Regions from separate parts of the Homo sapiens genome. Here all the other regions are reported to be linked to region 3. Evidence: microRNA targets listed by miRTarBase, many of them from high-throughput screens and not tested one by one. Region 3 holds a microRNA gene; each other region holds the end of a gene's coding sequence.

What was found. The annotated mature microRNA hsa-miR-4537 reads UGAGCCGAGCUGAGCUUAGCUG and lies in region 3 at 2,176-2,197, shown strand. An mRNA with a match to its seed (bases 2 to 7 or 8) in the 3' UTR can be bound and repressed. Matches are read on the target gene's strand: a 7mer-m8 pairs with bases 2 to 8, a 7mer-A1 pairs with bases 2 to 7 and ends in A, and an 8mer does both.
Region 1: the mRNA of GLG1 is a reported target of hsa-miR-4537. The part of its 3' UTR that is shown has no 7-base or 8-base seed match.
Region 2: the mRNA of ATAT1 is a reported target of hsa-miR-4537. The part of its 3' UTR that is shown has no 7-base or 8-base seed match.
Region 4: miRTarBase lists LRRC51 as a target of hsa-miR-4537. Seed matches in the 3' UTR shown: 8mer at 3,111-3,118.

The regions. Positions count from the first base shown.
Region 1 is chr16:74,448,971-74,453,492 of GRCh38, reverse strand. It overlaps GLG1 (golgi glycoprotein 1), which reads left to right. Exons shown (of 26, transcript NM_001145667.2): 26 at 159-4,522. The coding sequence ends at 326. Among named protein-coding and RNA genes, the nearest start is that of CLEC18B, 30 kb to the right of the region's middle.
Region 2 is chr6:30,646,403-30,650,942 of GRCh38, reverse strand. ATAT1 (alpha tubulin acetyltransferase 1) reads right to left here. Exons shown (of 13, transcript NM_001413067.1): 13 at 4,122-4,474. The coding sequence ends at 4,300. It overlaps C6orf136 (chromosome 6 open reading frame 136), which reads right to left and starts at 3,810. Exons shown (of 6, transcript NM_001161376.2): 1 at 3,097-3,810; 2 at 984-1,385. The coding sequence starts at 3,711.
Region 3 is chr14:105,857,157-105,861,728 of GRCh38, reverse strand. MIR4537 (microRNA 4537) reads left to right here and starts at 2,176; the gene lies at 2,176-2,245. It overlaps MIR4539 (microRNA 4539), which reads left to right and starts at 4,157; the gene lies at 4,157-4,216. MIR4507 (microRNA 4507) reads left to right here and starts at 3,554; the gene lies at 3,554-3,605. It overlaps MIR4538 (microRNA 4538), which reads left to right and starts at 3,487; the gene lies at 3,487-3,564. It also overlaps IGH.
Region 4 is chr11:72,095,188-72,099,187 of GRCh38, reverse strand. It overlaps LRRC51 (leucine rich repeat containing 51), which reads right to left. Exons shown (of 6, transcript NM_145309.6): 6 at 2,293-3,809. The coding sequence ends at 3,668. The region is part of intron 5 of LRTOMT (leucine rich transmembrane and O-methyltransferase domain containing); the gene reads right to left. LAMTOR1 (late endosomal/lysosomal adaptor, MAPK and MTOR activator 1) reads left to right here. Exons shown (of 5, transcript NM_017907.3): 2 at 1-77; 3 at 330-407; 4 at 773-899; 5 at 1,274-1,896. The coding sequence ends at 1,366. Among named protein-coding and RNA genes, the nearest start is that of LAMTOR1, 6.1 kb to the left of the region's middle.

The sequences.
Region 1 (4,522 bases), not on the chromosome of region 3:
AGAGTTGTAGCTCTGTGTTGATTTTTCTTATCTCCTGCCCTCCCTCTCCAAAAGAAAAGACATAAATTAAACTAGGAACTGAGAGGGATAAGTTAGACCTAGCACTGCCACCAGCCCAGTGCTCTCTCAGAGAATCACATTGCCTTGTGTCATTCTAGGTGGCCCCAGCAGATGGCTTCTCTGATCTTGCCATGCAAGTAATGACGTCTCCATCTAAGAACTACATTCTCTCTGTGATCAGTGGGAGCATCTGTATATTGTTCCTGATTGGCCTGATGTGTGGACGGATCACCAAGCGAGTGACACGAGAGCTCAAGGACAGGTAGAGCCACCTTGACCACCAAAGGAACTACCTATCCAGTGCCCAGTTTGTACAGCCCTCTTGTATAGCATCCCCACTCACCTCGCTCTTCTCAGAAGTGACACCAACCCCGTGTTAGAGCATTAGCAGATGTCCACTGCGTTGTCCCATCCAGCCTCCACTCGTGTCCATGGTGTCCTCCTCCTCCTCACCGTGCAGCAGCAGCAGCTGGTCGCTGGGGTTACTGCCTTTGTTTGGCAAACTTGGGTTTACCTGCCTGTAGACAAGTCTCTCTCATACCAACAGAACTTCCGGTACTTCCAGAACCAACTCACCTGACCTGCAACTCAAAGGCTTTTTTAAGAAAACCACCAAAAAAAAAAATTTTTTTAAAGAAAAAAATGTATATAGTAACGCATCTCCTCCAGGCTTGATTTGGGCAATGGGGTTATGTCTTTCATATGACTGTGTAAAACAAAGACAGGACTTGGAGGGGAAGCACACCACCCAGTGTGCCATGACTGAGGTGTCTCGTTCATCTCTCAGAAGCACCTTGGGGCCTCGCCAGGGCCGTGGTCTTCACCGAGGCGTGGGTGGGCAGCCGTTCCCCAGGCTGTGTGGGGTCCTGCTTTCTTCTGCTGAGACAGTGACGCTTTCCAGTTTCCACCCTAATCAGCCACTGCTGGTCACAGCCCCACAGCCATGGGTATTTCTGTGGTCTCCTCGCTTCATTGAAGCAAAGCATGAGCCTTCCTAGACAAGGGCAGCTGGGGAGGGGAAGGGACCGGAAGTTTGTGAAGTTGAACAGTCCATCCATCTGCACTGAGAGGCTGGATCCTGAGTCCCGGGGCAGCAGGATCCCAGGAACCTTCCTCCTCCAGGGCAGCACAGGACTCAGCCATGTCTGGACCGGCCCTGCTGAGGCTACAGTCACTCTGGAAGCTCTGCGCTTCATCAGGAGGCAGGACTGTGGCGGGAGGGGTCCTTGAAGATGGGTGTGGGGAGCAGTGGGTCAGGAAGTGGGAGCCAGAGGTTTGACTCACTTTGCTTTATTTTTCAGGCTACAATACAGGTCAGAGACAATGGCTTATAAAGGTTTAGTGTGGTCTCAGGATGTGACAGGCAGTCCAGCCTGACCTTTCTGCACACTCCAGACAAACTTCCCAGACAAGCTCCTTTGTGCCTCTACGTGGAGAGGGTGTGGAAAGTTATCACATTAAAAGATGGAGGATTTGCTCTGTTTTTTTTCTTTCTGTCCATTTGCTGCGTGTACCCACTCTAGTAGGCATTGGCTAAATGTTGTATTTTGGCGATTCATCAACCTTTGCAGAATATGGGCTTTATAGAAGCAATATTCTTGGCCATCCCGCCTCATTCCTCCAGTGTGGAGATGACAAGTCTGGGTGTGAGAGGGAGGGGTCCGGGCATCATGGTTCAGCGTGGCACTCCTTTGGTTGAGTTTGGGGCATGAGATCACAGTGGCTGCACAAGAGAGCAGTGTGTACAGTAGGAGAGACATTTATGTAATATATATTTTATTAACCTGTTAGATGTCCACAAAGTATTATAAATCACGTGCCTAAAACTGTCCATGTAGACCAAGGCCTGCCCTCGGCGCCCCCCACTCTTGCCTCTGCTCTGCACAGTCCACGTGCACTGCAGGACCGGAGCGACACATGTCTTCCCTGAAGGGTGTTCAGTACAAGGCGTGTCAGTTTGTGGATCAGTTGATCCAAGTTACTCCTTGTCTAACCTGACTGACATATATTTGAATACTGTGGTTTTCTTTCTTTTTTTTCTATTTGCTGCCCTTCCTGGAGGCAGTGGGTTCCAGAAGCCAACTGATTGTCCCCCTGCCAAGTCACCAAGGGAAGCTGCTAAGCTGCTTAGTCCCCTCGGTCCTGCTTGTAGGGTCTTCCTGATTGTCAACAGCTGTCTGGGATGCTTCAGTCTCCTAAAACTGGAAACGCAGGGTGCGAGCAGCACACACTGCCTCCCGCCACTGCCAGCCGGAGTGAGCGGCCCGAGAGTCTCTGCAGGTTCCCCTGGGGGCTGGGGGCCGCTGAGGCCTAATATCAAGAGCCAGGAATGTCATGTACATGGAGGTGCCTACGGACGTGCCTGGTGTGGTTTGCAGGTAGGATGGATGTTCACTGTTTGACCGGGTGGGGTATCCTTCCTCTCTGCAGTCTCCTTCCCAGTATGCGTAAACACCCTTATAGTTCTAATTGTGTTGATATTTCTGTTCTTTCTGAATTGAGAGAAAATCCCATTCGTTGTCTGCAGATTTGGAAGTTTGATGAGGAATTTGGTTCTTGAAACATCTGTCTTTTTTTTTTTTTTTGAGACAGAGTATCTCTCTGTTGCCCAGGCTGCAGTGCAGTGGCGCGATCTCAGCTCCCTGCAACCTCCACCTCCTGGGTTCAAGCAATTCTCTGCCTCAGCCTCCTGAGTAGCTGGGATTCCAGGCACCCGCCACCACGCCTGGCTTATTTTTGTATTTTTAGTAGAGATGGGGTTTCACCATCTTGGCCAGGCTGGTCTTGAACTCCTGATCTCATGATCCACCCGCCTCAGCTTCCCAAAGTGCTGGGATTACAGGTGTGAGCCACCCTGCCTGGCCAAAACATTTGTCATCTTTATAAATGGTCAGAATAGAAAAGTTAGCTCTGCCAGTATCTTCAATTACTTATTACAAGAATGTCTTTCATCATCTTACTTGGAGCATTTTCCAATGACTGGCTCTTGAGAGCCCCAGGCAGGGCCCCGAGCAAGTTTTTCTAAGTGCCAAGGCCAGCAAAGTCTGAACTGGCCGCACTCATTAAGTCCCTCATTTGGCAAAACAAAACAGGGCCTGGGGCACCCCTGGTTCCTGGCCTTATAGGTCAGTCAACTGGCTGAGAAATGGTCAAGAAAAGAAACAATGACCCTTCTGTGGATGTGAGTGGATGATGGACTCTGGCCTGTGTCTACTCTCCTGATGTGTAGCCCACCAACAGTAATAGAAGTAGAGGGTAGGGGGTTTTGCCAAGGCTAAGGCTTCAGGTACTTGCTAACAGTTATAGCAGCTGGGTCACTGTCATCTGGACTTACCAGTTCATGCCAGTGTCCCTGTGACTTATGCATAGTGTGCGCCACAGCCCTCTAGAGGTACCTGGAGCCCGGACTGCCAGGCTGGAGGCTCTGGGGTACTGAAGGTGAGCTGTCTGGGCAAACTATTAAGAACAAGACGAACTGTTCACAATGGAGCTTCTCCCACAGATGGGGAGCTCTGTGAGGCCTTCACCTGGGTGCATGTTGGACTTCCATTGCTGTTGCTGTTGTCCCTAGACAAGCCCGTTAGCAAGAAGCACCGGCAGGGGAGCCATGCACTCCATAGGCTTGGGATCACCCCCGGGAAAGCGATCTTCCCCGGGCTACCACCCCCAGCTGCAGTTCTGTGTTAGTGCATCCTTCAAAGCTAGGAGAATTCTAGGGTGACCAGTGAGCTAATGTTGAGTGAGCAGGTATTGACTTGAACACACTGCAGGCCTTTGGCTGTCTCATGCTGTCCTTACTCTTCTTGGGAACAGTGAGTCACTCAGCTGGCCAGGGTGGGGATGCATCCTGGTGAAGAGACAGCTTTCCCTGAAGATGCTACAGAAAGTTACTGTCAGATTTCATTTGTTTCTGTTTCCTGAGATCAACTAACAGAAGAATCTAATGGTGAGAGTGTCTTCATTCATGTTTTACGTTTTATCAAGGCACACTGGAAAGGGAATTATGTGGCTGACTTCCCTTGGCCTTCCCAAGAGAAGATTCTGTTCTTATGTCAGTGTGGCTTCTGGAAGTGTCTCCTATCCTCCCATCCTCCAGGCCTGTGGTGTGACTTCTGCCCCGAAGTTCCTACTATAGTGAGTCATCTGGGGAGAGGCCACTGAAAAGAGGCCTTCCCTTCCCATTTCCTCCCCTGCCTCCTTAGAACACACTCTAAGTCAGAACTTAATCTAAGAAGAAGGAAGCTGGACCAGGAACCTTGGAAGTCAGCCAGCCCTAGAACAGTCAGCCTAAATTTTGGCCGTAATGGCTTTTTTGGTTTTTTGTTTTGTTTCTGAGATGGAGTCTCACTCCGTTGCCAGGCTGGAGTGCTGTGGCGCTATCTCAGCTTACCGAATCCTCCGACTCCCTGGTTCAAGCGATTGTCCTGCCTCAGCCTCCGGAGTAGCTGGGATTACAGGCATG
Region 2 (4,540 bases), not on the chromosome of region 3:
TTTTTCAGTTTTCTAATTTTTTTTTTTTTTTGAGACGGAGTCTAGCTCTGTCGCCCAGGCTGGAGTACAGAGGTACAATCTCAGCTCACTGCAACCTCCGCCTCCTAGGTTCAAGCGATTCTCCTGCCTCAGCCTCCCGAGTAGCTGGGATTACAGGCTTGAGATGGAGTCTAGCTCTGTCGCCCAGGCTGGAGTGCAGAGGTACAATCTCGGCTCACTGCAACCTCCGCCTCCCAGGTTCAAGCGATTCTCCTGCCTCAGCCTCCCGAGTAGCTGGGATTACAGGCACCCACCACCATGCCCAGCTAATTTTTGTATTTTTAGTAGAGACGGGGTTTCACTGTGTTGGCCAGGCTGGTCTTGAACTCCTGACCTTGTGATCCGCCTGCCTCGGCCTCCCAAAGTGCTAGGATTATAAGCGTGAGCCATGTGCCAGGCCCAGTTTTCTATTTTTAAGGCCTCCTTACTCCCATCTTGGAGTGAAAGATCTCATCCCATGATTAACCTCCCTTAACCCAAAATGAGGAACATCATTTTCTTTCTTTTTTTTTTTTTTGAGACGGAGTCTCGCTCTGTTGCCTAGGCTGGAGTACAATGGAGATATCTCCTTTCACTGCGCCTCCTGGGTTCAAGCGATTCTCCTGCCTCAGCCTCCTGAGTAGCTGGGATTATAGGCGTCTGCCACCATGCCTGGCTGATTTTTGTGTTTTTAGTAGAGATGGGGTTTCACCATGTTGGCCAGGCTGGTCTTGAACTCCTGACCTCAGGTGATCCACCTGCCTAAGCCTCCCAAAGTGCTGGGATTACAGCACTTTGAGCCACCGTGCCTGGCTGGAACATCATTTTCTCAGGAAAATGTTTATAATATATTTCTATGCCTGCCTCATGGTTCCAAAAAAGAATCCAGTTGACTATCCCTGTACGTCCAAGGATTACCCACATCCTTCCCACTGTAGACGAAGGCCACTTTTGCACTGACTTACCTCTTGTCTCAGTCTCTCATACATGACAGACAGATGTTCCTCCATACTAGGATCTCCTGACGGGGTGGCAGGGGAAGGGTGGGCAGTTCCAGGGACTTGGAAAGGTATCCAAGCCCCAGGATAGGGGCAGGGAGGTCCCTCAAAAAGGCTTCTAAGCCCATCCAGGCAGCCGCTATGCAACTCAGGTCCTGGTCCCTCCTCCCCCTTTCCTGGAGGGAGAACCACCCATGCTGAGCTGAGGGCCTGGATCTGAGGGAGAGGTAGTGGGGGAACCTGGGGAAGACGCTGGGTGGGAAGGCGTGGGGGCAGGGGAGACCAGAATAGAGGAGAAGATGGGGAAGTGGTTGTCGTGGAGTGGGGCCAAAGGGGTGGGAATGGTAGAGTCCCTGGATAAAGCTGGTCCTAAGGAGAAAGAACAGAAGGGAGAAAGATAAGAATCCACTTGTCTAACACCCCTTGATCCCCTGGATGCTCAACAGGCTTCCAATACCTATTCCTCCTGACAGAATGGATGGAATTACTATAGGAAAAAAGGGATGGATTCATCTCCATCTCTACTGAAAACAGGAGGAAACCATTTTATTTTATTATTTATTTTGAGATGGAGTCTCGCTCTGTTGCCAGGCTGGAGTGCAGTAGCACGATCTCAGCTCACTGCAACCTCCGCCTCCCGGGTTCAAGTGATTTTCCTGCCTCAGCCTCCTGAGTAGCTGGGACTACAGGCGCGCGCCACCATGCCCAGCTAGTTTTTGTATTTTTAGTAGAGACAGGATTTCACCATGTTAGCCAGGATGGTTTTCATCTCTTGACCTCGTGATCCACCCGCCTCTGCCTCCTAAAGTGCTGGGATTACAGGCGTGGGCCACCGCGCCCAGCCGAGCAAACTGTTTTATGTGACATAAATACCGGCACCTCCCAAAACCTAGCAGACATTTTACTTTTTTTTCTTTTTTTGAGACGAAGTCTCACCGTCGCCCAGGCTGGAGTGCATTGGCGCGAACTCGGGTCACTGCAACCGCCGCCTCCTGGGTTCAAGCCATTCTCCTGCCTCAGCCTCCCGAGTAGCTGGGATTACAGGCACCCTTCACCACGCCCGGCTAATTTTTGTATTTTTAGTTACAGATGGGGTTTCACCATGTTGGCCAGGCTGTTCTCGAACTCCTGACCTCAGGTAATCCGCCCACCTCGGCCTCCCAAAGTGCTGGGATTACAGGCGTGAGCCACCGTGCCCGGCCCAGTGTTGGAATCTTAAAGAAATGTGGCCGGGCGCGGTGGCTCACGCCTGTAATCCCAGCACTTTGGGAAGCCGAGGCGGGCGGATCACGAGGTCTAGGAGTTCGAGACCAGCCTGGCCAATATGGTGACACCCCATCTCTACTAAAGATACAAAACAATTAGCCGGGTGTGGTGGCGGGAGCCTGTAGTCCCAGCTACTCGGGAGGCTGAGGAAGGAGAATTGCTTGAACCCAGGAGACGGAGATTGCAGTGAGCCGAGATGGTGCCAATGCACTTCAGCCTGGGTGACGGAGCAAGACTCCATTTCAAAAAAAAAAAAAAAAAGATTCCAACACTGGGGGCAGTTTCACCTCTCTTATCGCAAGAATCATGTAATACATACTTGATGAGTTAACGAATAACAGGTTTTATTGTACTGTGGATTAAATGCTGTGGCCTGTACATCTCCATGATTAAGTGTGCGAGGCAAATGTACAGAGAAAAAAGAATATCCAGCTGAAGCTAGGAATCTGAATTCTATCATGTAACTTTAGGCATTCTCATTCCCTATGCCTCCGCTTCCTACAAATGTCCTATAAATGAGAACAATAAAGCCTCACTGGGTTATGAGGCCTATATGAAATAATGAATGTAAACAAAACGTAGCGACCTAGAAAGCAGTACATAAATGGAAGCTATTATCATTTCGGGCCCCTCTAATGACAGACACAACCTCAGGAGACAGTTAAAGGCTGGCCTTCACTCTCCTGGGTTTACCGACGTTGAAACTGCAAGGGGAGGTCACCCAAAGTTAGGCCTCACCCGAGTCCCTCCGCTCCCAAGGAACCCCCCAGGGGATCGTCTCACTGCAGGGAAGGCGGGCGGACCGCTCGGGTACCTCGGTCCCCGATGGTGTCCTAGAGGCGCCGTCTCTGCTGGGGGCGTGGCCATCTTGCCAGCCCGGGCGCAGGGGCCCGAACCGGGTGCACACTGGCCGGCCTTCCTGCCAGGACCGCTCTCCGAGTGCAAGACGGGCGGGCTGCTGAGGGCGCCCCGCGGGTCTGGTCTGGGCCGGGGAACTCCGGGACGGCGCCGCAGCAGGGCTACGAATCTCTCGGCCCCTGCCCTTCAAATCACCTCTAGGCACAGGTAACCGCGGAGAGTCGGGCGCAACGCAGACGCGCCCCGCTGCCTGGCCTTGACCCCGCCTGACCGCCCTCAAACCTGGGAGGACCGACGTCCTTGCGCGACAGGCCCGGCAGCGCCTCCCTCCCGCTCCCGCGACCCCTAGCCTGTCCACGCGCTGCAGGGCACAGGTGGGAAGGGGCGGCGGGTGTCTCTGCGCCTGCGCGGAACCCAGCGCGCGCTCCGCCCCACGCACCGGCTTTGAGGAGGGTCTCTCCCCGCCCCCTCTCCTCCCTCCCTCTTCTCCTCCGCTCACCTGGGGTCGAGCCTGGTAGGCGCGCAGGCAAGGGCCGAGACGCCGGGCCGCACCCCGGCTGGGCTGGTACATGATCTTCCGGGAGTGGAGAAGGAGCCTCCTGAGTCCGACCTCCGGCCTCCTCACAGGGGTGAGCGCGCCCCAGAGCCGGCTTCGTGAAGGGGAAAGGAGGCCGGGGCGGGGGGGTAGGGGGGGAAGGGGCTGAGGGAGGGAAACGGAGATGTCCCGCGCTTGCGCACTGCAGGCTCGAGGGAAGCGGCTGAAGCGCTCTGTCGGCTGTAAGCGCGCCTGCGCCCGCGGGCTCGGAGACTGCCTGAGTGCGCTTGCGCAAGTTACAGCCTCCCCCGCCCCCCCAAGCGCTGTATTCACAGCTGAGGCCTTTGAGCAAAAAGCTGAGCAAAAACAGGGCTGAAGGCTGAATGGGTGCAACGACAGTGAGGGGTGAGGCGGCTGAAATAATGAGTCAAATTTTTCAACAGCTCTTGTGATAAAAATAAATACTTTTATTGGTCTGGTTAAAAGATACAAATGACTTGAATCTGATAAGCCTGCTGAATGAATGAATGAATGAATGTATCCATCTATTATGAGGGTTGGGCTTTGGCTCTTTCCTGTAGTGAGGGAGAAATAATACTTTGAAGATGTTTGACGGGGCTGCGGTCACCAAGGCCTGGTGCTGCGACGTTCCTGCAGGTTTCGAATGAACCTGGCGTTGAGTATGTCCCCACCCACTGTCCAGGACTGGGCTGGCGGGGCCGGGGCCTGTGGAGGAGCTGTGTGCATGGGCTTCTCCCCAGACCCATCCTGTGACAAGGCCTGCTCCTCACTGGCAGACCTGGTAGGTGGGGAGATGGAGAGTGGGTTATAGGAATACTAAAGAGGAAATTAAGATTACAGACTC
Region 3 (4,572 bases):
CCTTCATTTTAGTATTTTTCAAGACCACTTTTCAACTACTCACTTTAGGATAAGTTTTAGGTAAAATGTGCATCATTATCCTGAATTATTTCAGTTAAGCATGTTAGTTGGTGGCATAAGAGAAAACTCAATCAGATAGTGCTGAAGACAGGACTGTGGAGACACCTTAGAAGGACAGATTCTGTTCCGAATCACCGATGCGGCGTCAGCAGGACTGGCCTAGCGGAGGCTCTGGGAGGGTGGCTGCCAGGCCCGGCCTGGGCTTTGGGTCTCCCCGGACTACCCAGAGCTGGGATGCGTGGCTTCTGCTGCCGGGCCGACTGGCTGCTCAGGCCCCAGCCCTTGTTAATGGACTTGGAGGAATGATTCCATGCCAAAGCTTTGCAAGGCTCGCAGTGACCAGGCGCCCGACATGGTAAGAGACAGGCAGCCGCCGCTGCTGCATTTGCTTCTCTTAAAACTTTGTATTTGACGTCTTATTTCCACTAGAAGGGGAACTGGTCTTAATTGCTTGATGAAGAGCAGGAGACTCATTTATGTGAGTCTTTTGAGTGACCATTGTCTGGGTCACTCCCATTTAACTTTCCCTAAAGCCCATTTGAAGGAGAGGTCGCACGAGCTGCTCCACAACCTCTGAATGGGGATGGCATGGGTAATGATGCTTGAGAACATACCAAGCCCCACTGGCATCGCCCTTGTCTAAGTCATTGACTGTAGGTCATCATCGCACCCTTGAAAGTAGCCCATGCCTTCCAAAGCGATTTATGGTAAATGGCAGAATTTTAAGTGGCAAATTCAGATAAAATGCATTTCTTGGTTGTTTCCAATGATGACTGTTATCTAGAGGGAATTTAAAGGCAGGGGTTTACTGCAGACTCAGAAGGGAGGGGATGCTCCGGGAAGGTGGAGGCTCTGAGCATCTCAATACCCTCCTCTTGGTGCAGAAGATATGCTGCCACTTCTAGAGCAAGGGGACCTGCTCATTTTTATCACAGCACAGGCTCCTAAATTCTTGGTCTCATTCTCAAGATGTTTTAATGACTTTAAAGCAGCAAAGAAATATTCCACCCAGGTAGTGGAGGGTGGTAATGATTGGTAATGCTTTGGAACCAAAACCCAGGTGGCGCTGGGGCAGGACTGCAGGGAACTGGGGTATCAAGTAGAGGGAGACAAAAGATGGAAGCCAGCCTGGCTGTGCAGGAACCCGGCAATGAGATGGCTTTAGCTGAGACAAGCAGGTCTGGTGGGCTGACCATTTCTGGCCATGACAACTCCATCCAGCTTTCAGAAATGGACTCAGATGGGCAAAACTGACCTAAGCTGACCTAGACTAAACAAGGCTGAACTGGGCTGAGCTGAGCTGAACTGGGCTGAGTTGAACTGGGTTGAGCTGAGCTGAGCTGAGCTGGGCTAAGTTGCACCAGGTGAGCTGAGCTGAGCTGGGCTTGGCTGCACTAAGCTGGGCTGAGCTGGGCTGAGCTGGGCAGGGCTGGGCTGAGCTGAGCTGGGCTGGGCTGAGCTGGGCTGGGCTGGGCTGGGCTGAGCGGGTCTGAGCGGGGCTGAGCTGAGCTAGGCTGGGCTGGGCTGAGCTGGGCTGAGCTGGGCTGAGCTGGGCTGAGCAAGGCTAGGCTGAGCTGGGCTGAGCTGAGCTGGGCTGAGCAAGGCTAGGCTGAGCTGAGCTGAGCTGGGCTGCGCTGAGCTGGGCTGGGCTGCGCTGAGCTGGGCTGGGCTGAGCTGGGCTAGGCTGGGCTGAGCTGGGCTGAGCTAGGCTGGGCTGGGCTGGGCTGAGCGGGGCTGAGCGGGGCTGAGCTGAGCTAGGCTGGGCTGAGCGGGGCTGAGCTGAGCTAGGCTGGGCTGGGCTGGGCTGAGCCAAGCTGAACCGGGTTGAGCGTGCTGTGCTGGGCTGAGCCAAGCTAGGCTGAGCTGAGCCAAGTTGAGCTTAGCTGGGCTGAGCTAACCTGGGCAGGGCTGAGCTGGGCTGAGCTAACCTGGACTGGGGCTGAGCTAACCTGGGCAGAGCTGAGCTGGGCTGAGCTAACCTGGGCTGGGGCTGAGCTAACCTGGGCTGGGCTCAGCTGAGCTGAGCTACGCTGGGCTGGGCTGGGCTGAGCCGAGCTGAACTGGGCTGAGCAGGCTGTGTCGGGCTGAGCCAAGCTGGGCCGAGCTCAGCAGAGCTGAGCCGAGCTGAGCTTAGCTGGGCTGAGCTAACCAGGGCTGGGCTGAGCTGGGCTGAGCTGAGCTGAGCTGAACTGGGCTGAACGGGCTGAGGCGAGCAGGGCCGAGCTGAGCAGAGCTAAGCCGAGGCTGGGCTGGGCTAACCTGGGCTGGGCCGAGCTGAGCAGAGCTAAGCCGAGGCTGGGCTGGGCTAACCTGGGCTGGGCTGAGCTGAGCTGGGTTGGGCAGGGCTGGGCTGGGCTGAGCTAAGCTGAACTAGGGTGAGCTGGGCCGAGCCAGGCTGGTTTGGGCTGAGTTGAGCTGACCTGGACTGGGGCTGAGCTAACCTGGGCTGGGCTCAGCTGAGCTGAGCTACGCTGGGCTGGGCTGGGCTGAGCCGAGCTGAACTGGGCTGAGCAGGTTGTATCAGGCTAAGCCAAGCTGGGCCAAGCTCAGCAGAGCCGAGCCGAGCTGAGCTTAGCTGGGCTGAGCTAACCAGGGCTGGGCTGAGCTGGGCTGAGCTGAGCTGAGCTGAACTGGGCTGAACGGGCTGAGGCGAGCAGGGCCGAGCTGAGCAGAGCTAAGCCGAGGCTGGGCTGGGCTAACCTGGGCTGGGCTGAGCTGAGCTGGGTTGGGCAAGGCTGGGCTGGGTTGAGTTGGGCTGAGCTAAGCTGAGCTAGGGTGAGCTGGGCTGAGCCAGGCTGGATTGGGCTGAGTTGAGCTGACCTCAACTGAGCTGACCTAGGCTGAGCTGAGCTGAGCTGAAGTAGGCTGTGCTGGGCTGAGCTGGGATGACCTGGGCTGGGCTGAGCTGATTTGGGCTGGGTTGAGCAGACCTGGGCTGAGCCGGGTTGAGCTGAGCTGAACCAGGATGAGCTGGGCTGAGCTGAGCTGGGCTGGGTGGTCCAGGCTGGGCTGACCTGGACCAGGCTGGGCCAGGTTGAGCTGGGCTAAGCCGAGCTGAGCTGAGCTGAGCTGGGATGATCTGGGCTGGGCTGGGCTGGGCTGAGCTGACCTGGGCTGGGCTGGGCTGAGCTGAGCTGAGCTGAGTTAAGCTGAGCTGAGCTGAACTGGGCTGTGCTGAGCTAGGCTGGGCTGGGCTGAGCTGGGCTGGGCTGGGCTGAGCCAGATTGTGCCTGGCTGAACTGAGCTGGGCTAAGCTGAGCTGGGCTGAGCTGGGCTGAGCTGAGCTGGGCTGAGTGGGGCGGGGCTGAGCTGAGCCGGACTGGGCTGGGCTGGGCTCAGCTGAGCTGAGCTGAACTGGGCTGGGCTGAACTGGGCTGGGCTGAGCTGAGCTGAACTGGGCTGGGCTGAACTGGGCTGGGCTGAGCTGAGCTTGGATGAGCTGGGCTGAACTGGGCTGGGTTGAGCTGGGCTGGGCTGAGTTGAGCCAGACTGATCTGGGCTGAGCCGAGCTGGGTTAAGCCGAGCTGGGTTGGGCTGGGCTGGGTTGGGCTGGGCTGAGCCGGACTGGGTTGGGCTGAGCTGAGCTGGACTGGGCTGAGCTGAGCTGGTCTGGGCTGGCTGAGCTGAGCTGTGTTGAGCCAAGCTAGGCTGGGCTGGGCTGAGCTGGGCTGAACTGGGCTGAGCGGAGCTGAGCTGAGCTGGGCTGGGTTGAGCAGAGCTGGGGGCTGAGCTGGGCTGGGCTGGGCTGAGTTAAGCTGGGCTGACCTGGGCTGAGTTAAGCTGGGCTGACCTGGGCTGAGCTAAGCTGGGTTGAGCCGATCCGGGCTGGGCTGGGCTGGGCTGAGCCAGGCTAGGTTGAGCTGGGCTGGGCTGGGCTCTGCTGTGCTGTGCTGAACAGGGCTGAGCTGAACTGAGCTGAGCTGGGCTGAGCTGGGCTCTGCTGTGCTGTGCTGAGCAGGGCTGAGCTGAACTGTGCTGAGCTGGGTTGAGCTAAGCTAGGCTGGGCTGGGCTGAGCTGGGATGAGCTGGGCTGGGCTGGGCTGGGCTCTGCTGTGCTGTGCTGAACAGGGCTGAGCTGAACTGAGCTGAGCTGGGCTGAGCTGAGCTCTGCTGTGCTGTGCTGAGCAGGGCTGAGCTGAACTGGGCTGAGCTGGGCTGAGCCGGGCTGAGTTGAGCAGAGCTGGGTTGAGCAGAGCTGGGCTGGGCTGGGCTGAGTTGAGCCAGGCTGACCTGGGCTGAGCCAAGCTGGGTTGAGCCAAACTGGGCTGGGCTGGGCTGAGCCAGGCTGGATTGAGCTGGGCTGGGCTGGGCTAAGCTGGGCTGTGCTGCACTGAGCTGGGCTGAGCTGGGTTGAACTGTGCTGAGCTGAGCTGGGCTGTGCTGAACTATGCTTAGCTGGGCTGGGCTATACTGGGCTTAGCTGGGCTGGGCTAAACTGGGCTTAGCTGGGCTGGGCTATACTGGGCTTAGCTGGGCTGGGCTATACTGGGCTTAGCTGGGCTGGGCTATACT
Region 4 (4,000 bases), not on the chromosome of region 3:
CCCAACTACCACAGCCTGCCTTCCGCTCGCACTGATGAGCAGGCCCTGCTCTCTTCCATCCTTGCCAAGACAGCCAGGTAAGTGTCAGAGGACCAGGCCTGGGTCAGAGCTCCTCTATCCATATTAAAGGCTAGGATAGAAGGAGCCAGGCTCAGGACATGGGGGATGGGACAAGGTCACTGGGGAGAGGTGCCTCCATGTCCAGCCCTGCTCCAGTAGGCAGGAGGGAAACTGGTGTCAGATAGCCCTGGAGTTGGTACCTGGCACTGAGTCCTGTTTGTCCTTCTCGGAAGCACCTGTCATGTCATCTCTGTCTCCTCTCCCCATAGCAACATCATTGATGTGTCTGCTGCAGACTCACAGGGCATGGAGCAGCATGAGTACATGGACCGTGCCAGGCAGTACAGGTGAGCACCTGGCCAGCGTGGGTCCCTCAGGCTACTTGGGCTCCCACCCTCCATCACTGTTCCAGCTTTGGAGCCTGGCCCCTAGTCCAAGCTTCTCATTTGGTGCAGCCCTGGAGACTGACCACAGATCACTTGGGTGCTTCAGTAGTTATTCATGTCAGCCCTGTTTACCCTGTGACACTCTTGAGGGCGCTGAGGCCAAGGGAGATGGGCCTAGATTGAGTCTGTGATGAGCTGAGACCTTCCCTCCCAGATACCCCTCCTCGACACCCTGCTTCTCTGGCCTGAGGGGATGAGGCTTACCTGGGCTGGGCAGGGCAGACTGTGGCTTAACTGCCTACCCCCACCCCCTCTCTCTTGGTCAGCACCCGCTTGGCTGTGCTGAGCAGCAGCCTGACCCATTGGAAGAAGCTGCCACCGCTGCCGTCTCTTACCAGCCAGCCCCACCAAGTGCTGGCCAGTGAGCCCATCCCGTTCTCTGATTTGCAGCAGGTGAGACACCCCTCACCTGCCCCTGCCCACCCTTCTCACACTGCCCAGGGTATGGCAGAGGGTTCACCCACTCTGCCTCAGAGGAGGTAGGGAAGGTGGAGTTAGGGAGCCTGGTAGCCTTGTAGGCCCCAGCTCCCTCCCACCTCGTTCTCTTAACTTTTTATGTCTTTCCTATCTCCTTCCTGCAACCTTTATTGTTTCACTCCCCTTTGTTCTTTTCCTTCTGTCTCTCCCATCCCTGTCTTTCTCTTTGCCTTCCTGTTCCCCTTCATTCCCTCCTTCTCCATCACCATCTAATCTCCCCTCCCCATTTTTCCTGATTGCCCTCCTCACCTGTCTCTGTTCCTCTCCTCCCCGGCCCCTCTCTGTCTCAGGTCTCCAGGATAGCTGCTTATGCCTACAGTGCACTTTCTCAGATCCGTGTGGACGCAAAAGAGGAGCTGGTTGTACAGTTTGGGATCCCATGAAGAGAGGGGTCCTTGGACAGCTCTTCTCCTCTCTTCATCCCATCTCTACCCCACCCCCTTGGCCCCCAGCCTCACTGCGGCTTATACAGTACCCTAACCTGCTACTAATCACAGAGAAAAATGTGAAGAAGGAGGAGAAGAGGAAGGCTAGAAGCCTGAGCAAGTGAGGGTAGAACCTTTTGGGACTGGCCTTTGAAGCTCTGGCCAGGGATGGGGTGGGGGCCAAAAGGACAGAGCCTGGTATGTCTTCATAGTCATTGAGAATGTGGAGATACCAGTTTGGGTGGGGGGTGATCACCAGGGGACCTAGGGAGATCCCCTTCCCACCCTCTCTGTTGGCCTCAGAGTCACTCCTGCCCCCTCTCCCTGACTTGGTGCTCACATGCACCTCACTAGGGTTTGTGACCAGGGTCTGGATGAGCTTGAATTTGAATGAATTGAGTTTGTATTTCTAGAACCCTGGGTTTTTACATGTTTGGTCTTTTTTTGTTTTGGTTTGTCACCCTCGATAAAGGAAGTATATTCATCCATGTGCTGGTTCTGGCCCCTCTGTTCTACCCATTCTACTTTTGATTACTTAGGTCTATGAGAGTAAGATGGGGGGAAGGGGACATCTTCCAGGGATATTGAAGATGAACCCAAGAGACAAGGGTTTAGGGTGTCAGCTCTTAGCTGAGACCTGGCTTGGGCTAACCTCAGACTGGATGAGACTGTTCTTGTCCCTTGTCCAGTGATGATGGGAACACTGTCAAAGCTGAACAGACCTGAATCTGAGGCAGCTTTGATTCTTGGGGGCCCTGCCTCAGACTCAATGGAATTACCAACAGCCCCTGGGGGTGAAGGGAGACATGGCGGGTTGGGGGGTGGAGAGAGAAAGCAGACCAGGCTCTTCTGGGAATACCTAATATGGAGTCAGCAAGCAAATGTTTTTAAGCAGAAGATTCTTTTTATCAAATGAAATCTTAAGCAGAATCCCAGCATATAAAACAGAATGGAATTACTTTGATCTGATTGAAGTGGGGGCTGGTTTCAGAGATCATAGGCCATCTTCTTGGCCTGTCATGGAGGCCTGTGAGGCATCTCTACAGACCCTGGTACTCTGTGAAGAGTTTGGAAATTACTGATCTACTTTAACCCCCAAATCTCTAAGCTGAAAAGTACAAAGGGGCCCAGAGAGTTAGATAAATTTCCCAAGGCTGTGTGGTAAACCCACGTCTCCAGTGTCCCAGGCCAGCAGGCCTTTCCCTCAATTGCCTCCCTTTTTCAGCAAAATAAGACTAGAGCTGGCCAGGTGCAGTGGCTTATCCTGTAATCCTAGCACTTTGGGAGGCTGAGGTGGGCAGATCACCTGAGGTCAGGAGTTTGAGACCAGCCTGGCCAACATGGCGAAACCCCATCTCTACTAAAAATACAAAAAAAGGCTGGGCGTGGTGGCTCACGCTTCTAATCCCAGCACTTTGGGAGGCCAAAGCAGACGGATCACCTGAGGTCAGGAGTTCAAGACCAGCCTGGCCAACATGGCGAAACCTTGTCTCTACTAAAATATAAAAAATTAGCTGGGGGAAGCCGAGGTGGGTGGATCACAAGGTCAGGAGATGGAGACCATCCTGGCTAACATGGTGAAACCCCGTCTCTACTAAAAATACAAAAAATTAGCCAGGCGTGGTAGTAGGTGCCTATAGTCCCAGCTACTTGGGAGGCTGAGGCAGGAGAATGGCGTGAACCTGGAAGGCGGAGTTTGCAGTGAGCCGAGATCGTGCCACTGCACTCCAGCCTGGGTGACAGAGCGAGACTCCGTCTCAAAAAAAAAAATTAGCTGGATGTGGTAGCAGGCGCCTGTAATCCCAGCTACTCAGGAGGCTGAGGCAGGAGAATCGCTTGAACCCAGCAGGCGGAGGTTGCAGTGAGCTGAGATCGCACCACTGCACTCCAGCTGGGGTGACGAGTGAAACCGTCTCAAAACAACAACAACAACAACAAAATTAGCCAGTCATGGTGGCAGGCGCCTTTAATCACAGCTACTGGGGAGGCTGAGGCAGGAGAATCTCTTGAACCTGGGAGGCTGAGGTTGCAGTGAGCCAAGATCGTGCCACTGCACTCCAGCCTGTGTGACAGAGTGAGACTCCGTCTCAAAAAAAAAAAAAAGAAAAGAAAAGGCTAGAGCTACTTGCAGTTGCCTGAGTTAGAGAACATCTCTACAAGGTGTAAGTGACTTCTCATCTGCTCAACAGCTCAAATTATTTATTGTCAAACCATGCTGTCTATGCTTAGGCCTTTAGGACTACTAGGGTCGTGGGAGCCTCAAAGTGTATTCTGCTTGGTCCAGGCCTTCTTGGGCTTGATGTTCATGCGTTTCCAGACTTCAGCTGTGGTGCGGTCTGCTTTGGTGACCCCACTGAAGTCGAACGTGGTGATACGGGACAGGGTGCACAGCACATATTGCCTGTGGGGAAGACTTAGGCTGGGGGCCAGCACCCCCACCAGAATCCCCTTCCCCCTCCACTAGTTGCTGTTGTCTTCCCTGACTGCAAGGAATGGAGGGACTTGAGCATAGTTTGGGAAAGATTAGGTTTATCCTGACTGAGAGCAAGGAATGCTTAGAGGTCTGTTACTCCCTTCCCAGGTCCAAGCATG